Linked DNA regions of Homo sapiens: region 2 is linked to region 1. The links come from fine-mapping of genetic effects on gene expression. A gene starts in region 1. The other region holds a variant in brackets. All regions are shown on one strand. Distances are between the middles of the regions.

Region 1 (4,389 bases):
CAGGCCTGGATTTTGCTTTTCTTTTTCTTTTTTCTGAGATGGAGTCTTGCTCTGTCGCCTAGGCTGGAATGCAGTGGCATGATCTTGGCTCACTGTAACATCTGCCTCCCAGGTTCAAGCGATTCTCCTGCCTCAGCCTCCCGAGTAGCTGGGATTACAGGTGCCCGCCACCATGCCCGGCTAATTTTTGTATTTTTAGTAGAGATGGAGTTTCACCATGTTGGCCAGGCTGGTCTTGAACTCCTGACCTCAGGTGATCCACCTGCCTTGGCCTCCCAAAGTGCTGGAATTTGGCTCACGCCTTTGGCGTGAGCCACAAACCCCGGCCTGCTTTTCTTTTTTAAATTTACATATTATTTATTTATTTTTATTTTATTTTATTTTGAGATGGAGTCTCACTCTGTCACCCAGGCTGGAGTGCAGTGGCGCAATCTCAGATCACTGCAAGCTCTGCCTCCCGGGTTCACGCCATTCTCCTGCCTCAGCCTCCCAAGTAGCTGGGACTACAGCCGCCCGCCACCACGTCCGGCTAATTTTTTTTTTTTTTTTGTATTTTTAATAAGGGGTTTCACTCTGTTAGCCAGGATGGTCTCGATCTCCTGACCTCGTGATCCGCCCGCCTCGGCCTCCCAGAGTGCTGGGATTACAGGCGTGAGCCACGCGCCCGGCCTAAATTTATATTTTAAACGCACATAGGAAAAAAAAATTAAACAGTACCAAAGAGTACAATGCATACTGACATACCGAGTCACCAATCCACCCCAAATTCCTAGACCCATGTCTCAAAAATGCCACAGACATTTTCTGATGGATCTTTGCAAAAATTTTCTATCTAGATCCTATTTTTTATACAAATACAACTATATGTATACAGCATTCTGTGCTTAATAACCCTTGATGATCTTCCCATATCAGCACATAGTCTGACTTAATTCTTTTTAAAGACTGCAGAGATTGCAGGCGCCAAAATACATCTAACCATTGGGGCAGATTTCATTATGACTATCCTTAACCCACTGTACTTGTCCCGCAAGGTCCAACCTGGTATTGCACAGGACCTCACAGAACGCTGCTGTTTCCTGATCTTTTCTAGTGAGGCAGCTTTGTTTCTTCACATAGGAGACCTCCCTGGAAAGCGAAGTCAAGCAGGTGGATCTAGAGGTTGGCCACCACAGTCAGGAAAGCAGCTGTCTACTGAAAAGCAAACTCTAATTCCTTAACATTAACGAGTACCGGAACTACCACGTGGGAAGTGCAGCCCCCTCTCTCCGCCTCACGGATTCAGCTCGGAGGTGCAGGGGTTTGGTGGGGGGCGGTTAGGGAATGACAGCTGCCCCGTGGAGGACGCCCAGGGCTGGGTCACGAGCTGACAGGAGTCAGCCTTATTCTGTAAATCCTAGTTATCAGGATGCCGGTTTCGCGCCGTGCCCAGTCCCACTCAGCCTTCAGTCTTCCGGCCGGGACCCCGCTGGGCGCTAAGGGGGGAGCGGCGCCACCGCGAGGCCGGAGAGGGGGCTGCGAGGGGCGCCCGGCCGGCCTGCGAACGTGGTGGGAGCCAGGCGGGGCACACGGCCTCCCCTTCCCATGAGGGACTCTCCCCGCCCCCCGGGCTCAGCGCTGGGAGTGGTGAGATGGATGGCGGGGTGATCCGACGCCGCCAGCCCACCGCGTCCCCAAGAGCCGGGGCCTCCGGCTCAGCTAAACGCCCCAGAGTCACGCATGCGCCCCATAAACGTCTGCTGAGTGAACGAAAGCTCCCCATCCACAAGGGGACAGCTCGGCGCTCCCACGCCATGTCCAGGTCGCATTCGACCAGCAGGACTTCCCTTAACGCGCTGCCGGAGTCCCCAAGATCGCGCCCCTGCCAGGAGCGGAACTGTTTATTTCCGTCCGGCTGAAGAGGCGGGGTGGGGATGGCACAAGCCGATTGGTTACGCAAAATGTGGAACCAATTCAGGCCTATGATCCAGGAGACTACAAGTTCCAGAATGCATCCTTCCTCCAGCATAGGGACAGGCCGAGGCTGCGGGGGCGTTGCCTGCTGGGAATTGTAGTCTTCATCTTGTTTGTTGCGCAGGAGGAACTGGAAGGAGGGAGTAAACTATTACCACGTGACGTTCGGGTCAGGTGTTTGGGCCAGCCTCCGCACTCGAGCTTTGATTGGCTGACTCTAATAAGAAGACGCCACTAGGGGCGGGGCGAAGAGGGGCGCAAGCTCATTGCGTTTTGAGTCTCGGGACCCCTGTTGGAGAGACTATGGCGCTCAACAAGAATCACTCGGAGGGCGGCGGAGTGATCGTCAATAACACCGAGAGGTGAAAACACTGCGGAAGGATCCTGGAGGACCAAAGTTCGGGTGTCGAGGAAGTGGGCGGTGGGTGGTGGGTGGTGGGGAATAAGCCCCTGAAGAGGGAGCACTGATGGAGTGAGGTTGGTGGGGAACGGCTGGGGGCGGGGTTGGAGGAAGGTGGGTGGGCCGTGGGGGAGAGCCCGGGAGGTTGTGATCAGCTGGGAGGCGGGGGTGGGACGTCTGCATGGGGACCTGGTATGGGGCCCCCGGTGGGGCCTAGGGGTGATTCTTGAACCCCTTCCCAGACTTGTGATTTCAGTAGCTGGGAGGAGCCCCAAACAAAAATAATTGTCACTTATTGGATGTCTACAACGTTACTACGTGTCAGGCTCTGCGCCTTTTCTACCTTATTTAATAAATTCTGTGCAGTATAATCTACTACTGTCCACATTTCACAGGTAGGGAAAGTGGAGGGCAGAAAGGTTAAGTAACTTGCCCGAGATCGCAACTGTGTAAGTAACAGAGGTGGTAATTCCAGGAAAGGAGTCTTGACTCCAAAGTTAATAGGATTAACCACCAGCATACAGGCTTCCAGTATGTTCCAGAACTGTTCAGGTTCCCGGTAAAAAACTGAGGTCCCAGAGGTGAAATTAAACAGATGACGTTTGTCAGGTGTCTAACAGTTCCTGGCACTGTGTGGGTCCGTAGTCATTCCCTTGCCTCTCTCTTGAATGCCTGTTGGTTTGGGTCACCTCGGAAGGCAGAGCTCTCCTAATTCAAGGTTCTTTCCACTCCATCCTCCCCACCCCTTGCTCATTGCATCCTGTCTCTCCTCCAGTCTCTGCCAAGAGAAGCCTTAAATGGCCTCTGTCTCCTTTTGTTCCTTGGGTATTGAAAATCAGACCAGCCAGCCCTGGGTTGAACTATGCCGACCCTGAATTGCCTCTTGAAGGCAGAAGGAGCTTAGGAGGCACCTGAGTCCCCAAAGGAGACATCGTGGAGTCAGAGCCCTGTACCCAGCTAAGGCCAGCATCCAGCTGCCCTGTGACTTGGGAATGTTTGATGAGTCAGAGGAAAATGCCTAGAGTGACCCAGCATGCTCACTTTCCCTCTATCTTACCCGCTCAGAGTTTCATGGGCCCAGCCTGTTGCTGGTAATTCCTTCTTTTCTCTGAGCAGTACTTCTCTTCTCTTTTTTTTTTTTTTTTTTTTTTTTTTTTAGATGGAGGCTTGCTCTGTCGCCCAGGCTGGAGTGCAGTGGCACGATCTCAGCTCACTGCAACCTCCGCCTCCTGGGTTCAAGCGATTATCCTGCCTCAGCCTCCCCAGTAGTTGGCATTACAGGCACCCGCCACTACACCCAGCTAATTTTTTGTATTTTTAGTAGACATAGGGTTTCACCATGTTGGGCAGGCTGGTCTCGAACTCCTGACCTCGTGATCCACCCTCCTCGGCCTCCCAAAGTATTGGGATTACAGGAGTGAGCCACCGCGCCCAGCCATTTTCCTTTGCTTATACCAGTTGTTTCCCACTTACCCTTCCCCAGTCAGAGAAAGTTGTGATATATGGGGGGAGGCAGAAGACAAACAGAACCGTGTGAACCTTTTTATCATGTAATCAGAGACACCTCACACTGTTTTGTTGCATCTCTGTGTGTGAGTCAGTTCCCAGGCCTGGCCAGCTTTTCGTGCCATTTGGCAACATCTCTGGGGACTGTTTTTCTTTCTGTCTCTGTGGAACTTTCTGAGACAAGAATGTATCTATCCTGCTCGGCCTTCTACCTGGCTTAGGGCTCAGTCCTGCTAAGTAAGGTGTGCCTTCAGCCTGCTGTTTTAGAAAGTGCTTCAGCCTGCTGTCTGAAAAAGTTGTATCTATAACAATTGAAGTGTTAAGTCCAGTGTCCAAAATTTGATAATTAGGCTGGGCATGGTGGCTCACGCCTGTAATCCCAGCACTTTGGGAGGCTGAGGTGGGTGGATCACTTGAGGTCAGGAGTTTGAAACCCGCCTGACCAACATGGTAAAACCTCGTCTCTACTAAACACAAAAAATTAGCCAGGCGTGGTGGCGCATGCCTGTAATCCCAGCTACTTGGAAGGC
Region 2 (4,389 bases), 180 kb after region 1:
TAAGTGTTATGTACCCTCCTCTCCAGCCAACTTCCCCAGGAAGCCTTCCAGCCCTAAGAAAAGGCTGCAACTGTACCCAGAAAGACTCTAGGACCCAGATCCTCCCTTCCCTCCACAACTGAAACCCAAACACTTAACGGCTCCCTGGGCTTGTTTTACGTGCAGGCTCCAAGTCCCACATACCCTAAATACTAGGCAGAGAAGATTATCACTACTGAGTGTTTTGTTCTGCAAGCCCGAGGAGAGCTGTGACTGACTTTGAACTATGGGGCCATGGGTCTGCCCATACCATCTTGCCAGTTCTCAGGCAGGGCGAGTTCTCAGGCCTGGGTTCCAGGTTTTTCACTCAGCATAGAAAGCAGGTTGCATTTACAGTTTTCAGGGGTTCTTTTTTTTCCCTCCTGCATGCTGGCGCCAAAACTTTCTTTCCTGGTAAAACACACTCTTATCTTTCTCACTCACAACGTCTCAAGATTTTAGTGGCTACATACAGTTCTATCCAATCACAGAATCAGCTCAAATATGGAACAGCTCACACTATATTTTCAAGAATATTACTGTTTTAGATTTTAATTGGGCATAAATTTCCTAAATTTTACTAGGTCATCTTGAAAGTTACAGCTGGTTTCCAAGCAGTTTTTTTTTGTTTTTTTTTTTGAGACAGATTCTCATTCTGTTGCCCAGGTTGGAGTGCATTGGCAGATCATGGCTCACTGCAACCTCTGCCTCCCAGGTTCAAGTAATTCCCCTGCCTCAGCTTCCCCAGTAGCTGGGATCACAGGTGTGCACCACCCACCAGTCTCACCAGTTAATTTTTGTATTTTTAGTAGAGACGGGGTTTCACCATACTGGCCAGGCTGGTCTTGAACTCCTGACCTCAAGTGATCCTCCCGCCTCAGCCTCCCAAAGTGCTGGGATTACAGGCGTGAGCTACTGCGGCTGGCCTCAAAGCAGTTTTTAACTGCAAAATGGGTCCTTATTCCCCGGGTCTAGAGTGATATAATTAAGTCTTTTTCTTTGGGGGTACAGGGGGGAAGTTTTTCCTCATAAAAAATGACTCTTCAGCAAGTACACATTTCTAATGGCCAATGCACAGCACAGCAGCTTAACCAACACAAGGGTGTCTTAACCTTCACAACAGATCATTATGGAATGTGATAGGAATTGCTACAAATTACTCTTGGCTGCTACTAGGATGACACTATGAGAATAGTTATGTTGTTCCGAAAAAGACCATTCTGTACAGCTTGCCCAAAAGTGGATGGACACACCCCCAGGAAAATGAGCATTAGACCCACCATCCCTGAGAGCTGGGGAGAGGCCTCATTTTGGTCTGACCTTCTTATAGCCTCTTGTTCACTTCTAGATGACTAAAGAGAACCCAAAGCACGCGAGGCGGCCCTTACACCTTCCTGGGTCTAGAAACAGACTAATCCACCTGCAGGGCAGTGACACTTAAAGCCCCATCTGGGATGCAGAATGCAAGTGGGTTGTTGGCCTCAGCCAGGCCTCTCGCCTTTCTAGTCAGGAGATATGGCACAATCTGAAAGGCTGGAAATCCAATGTGTCTCAGGATTTGTTCATTCCTGAGTTGTCTCCAGGTTCTTTCTTTATAAAGCTTATTTTATCCCAGAAAATGTCCACACAGTTGCACAGTTTGTCAGTGGGACAGATCTTGACCAAACATACGAACTGAGCCACAGTGTTCAAACACCTTGTTTGCATCCAGCCACCCACCACAGCCAACACCAAATACCTTTGGGTCATCAGCCTCAGGTTTTTCAGTCTCTGAATCGTCATCTTCCTACAAGACAAAGAATTTAGAGGATTAAGCTTAAAGGAGCGGGCCTGAGGAGTCTCACATGCATAACTAGGGGCCGGAGCAAACAGCCCATTTACCCAGCTGGGGTCATCCCACCAAGAATCCCTCCCCTACCATATAACTCAGAACCAGAGAAAAATAAGGGGAAAAAGAGATATTCTGGAGGGGAAAAAAACAAAAAACAAAAAAGCATCAGCAGCTCAAAGTCAAGTTACTTTAGTGGTGAGACAGTCCACATCAATGAAGATGCCC[G/A]AGTTCAAAGTCACATACATAAAAATGGAGAAAGCTTGCAATATGTTTTAGGAAAGAGTAAGATCAGGCCACACAATAAAACAGGCATCGTGTTTCCACTGAAGTATCAGTTATTTCAAATCAGGATTATGAGCCTTCTTTCCTTTTCATATACACATGTACATCAGACTCGGACCTACTCTAACAGTGTCCAACACCAAGTGCCAAGGCTTACACACAGCTGTATCGCAGCACCTCAACCGGCATTTGCACAAACATCAACACAGGAAGGCAGGCATCAAACTACCTGAGCAAGTGACCTGGGAAAGGCAGGACTAAAGGGCAATGCCCAACCTTTCAGGAGTCCCAGTTGAGTGGGCTCTGCCTCCACCTAAGTGCTCACAGAACTGCCAGTGATCCATTCTACCCAGTCCTGTTCCTTATCCAGATGAGGTCAGCCTGACACAAAGGATCACACACGGTAAGGCATTCTCCAAAGCGAGCCCGCCATTCCACTGAACGCTAACGCTGATGCTATGAAGGTCAAAGATCAGGAGCAGATGCTGGACCAGCTACCTTATTAGCTGGCTAAATCCATGTCACCTCCACTACCCAGAACACTCCCAATGCACAGAAGCCTTTAACTAAATACCCAGGAAAAAATGGTTTCATTTGAAACTACTATTTTCAACAAAGCTACATTTCAGCCCAAACATTACACAGCACTCCATATATTAATATAAATACCACTCGAGAGACTTGAACAAACTAGACTCATGATTTGGAGACTTAACTGTCCTGTAAGGTACCAGTGAGTCCAAGGCTTTAAATGCAATCTCCATAATCTCCTTAAAATGAAATCAGTCATGCCAAATAAACAGAGATGGAGCTCAGACAAATACAATCACATTTCAGAATCTCTACAACAAGATCTGATGAGAGGATTTTACTAAAATATGAAATGAAGCTTAAACATGATGAAAATTCTAAGCAAAGCAAATATGAAATAACACTTCAAAAACACATTATGCAAACGTACTAAAGAAAAGAGTTATGAATATTAAGCCAGAATGTGTGTACTTCAGAAAAGTCAGAAAACAACTTGCAAAACTTTTCTGAATAATTTCAGTCAACTCTGAATTATCAATATTAATGGATGGGGCTAAAGGCATGAAAGTATCTCCCAAAATGCATCATGTACAAAACGCATTTCTGTTTGTTGTGGAAATAATTTTTTTTTTTTTTAAGATGGAGTCTGGCTCTGTTGCCCAGGCTGGAGTGCAGTGGCGTGATCTCGGCTCACTGCAACCTCCGCCTCCCGGGTTCAAGCGATTCTCCTGCCTCAGCCTCCCGAGTAGGTGGGACTACAGGTGCGTACCACCATGCCCTGCTAATTATTGTATTTTTAGTAGAGATGGGGTTTCACCATGTTGGCCAAGATGGTCTTGATCTCCTGACCTTGTGATCCGCCCACCTCAGCCTCCCAAAGTGCTGGGATTACAGGCATGAGCCACCGTGCTTGGCTGGAAAGAATTTTAATGCTAACATTTACATACCAACATGTAACAAAAATTTCAAACAAATAATATATTTTAAGTGATTTAATTAAAACTTGCTAAGCAGTCAGATTTGACATCTAGACTCAACTCTGCCTGTCTTATGCTAAGCACCAACTTCAATTTCCTTGCGTTTTCTGCAAACTTAAATTCTGGCTCATGTTGCTCAGGTGATTATGTGTCTAAAGACTTTCTTGTTAATAATAGCACAGGTTCTCCTTTCTCCAGCACCTACTGAACTTCAGGCAAGATTTGTGATCAAGAACTAAGGGCACCATTATAAAAAGTGCCAAATAAAATGTCAAGAAAGAAGTTAAGAAGGCCAGGGATGGTGGCTCATACCTGTAATCCCAGCACTTTGGGAGGGTGAGGCAGGGGAATTGCTTGAGGCCAGAAGTTTGAAACCAGACTGGGAAACATAGTGAAACAACGTCTCTACAAAAAATTTTTTTTTAAATTTTAAAAATCGGCCAGGAGCAGTGGCTCACGCCTGTAATCCCAGCACTTTGGAAGGATGAGGCGGGTGGATCACCTGAGGTCAGGAGTTAGAGACCAGAATGGCCAACATGGTGAAACCGTCTCTGTGAAAAATACAAAAATTAGCCAGGCGTGATGGCAGGTGTCTGTAATCCCAGCTACTCAGGAGGCTGAGGGCAGGAGAATTGCTTGAACCTGGGAGGTGGAGGTTGCAGTGAGCAGAGATCGCACCACTGCACTCCAGCATGGGCGACAGAGCAAGATTCCGACAAAAAAAAATAATAATAGGTTAGCTAGGCATGG

The links.
Region 2: its variant is fine-mapped to the expression of WBP2 in tibial artery (GTEx, PIP above 0.99).

Annotation. Positions count from the first base shown.
Region 1 is chr17:75,853,165-75,857,553 of GRCh38, reverse strand. It overlaps WBP2 (WW domain binding protein 2), which reads left to right and starts at 2,219. Exons shown (of 8, transcript NM_012478.4): 1 at 2,219-2,315. The coding sequence starts at 2,257. RefSeq lists enhancers at 600-1,395, 2,004-2,133 and a silencer at 1,464-1,633.
Region 2 is chr17:75,669,231-75,673,619 of GRCh38, reverse strand. SAP30BP (SAP30 binding protein) reads right to left here. Exons shown (of 11, transcript NM_013260.8): 3 at 1,757-1,804. Among named protein-coding and RNA genes, the nearest start is that of SAP30BP, 4.1 kb to the right of the region's middle. The variant G/A (reference allele first, on the strand shown) is at 2,075.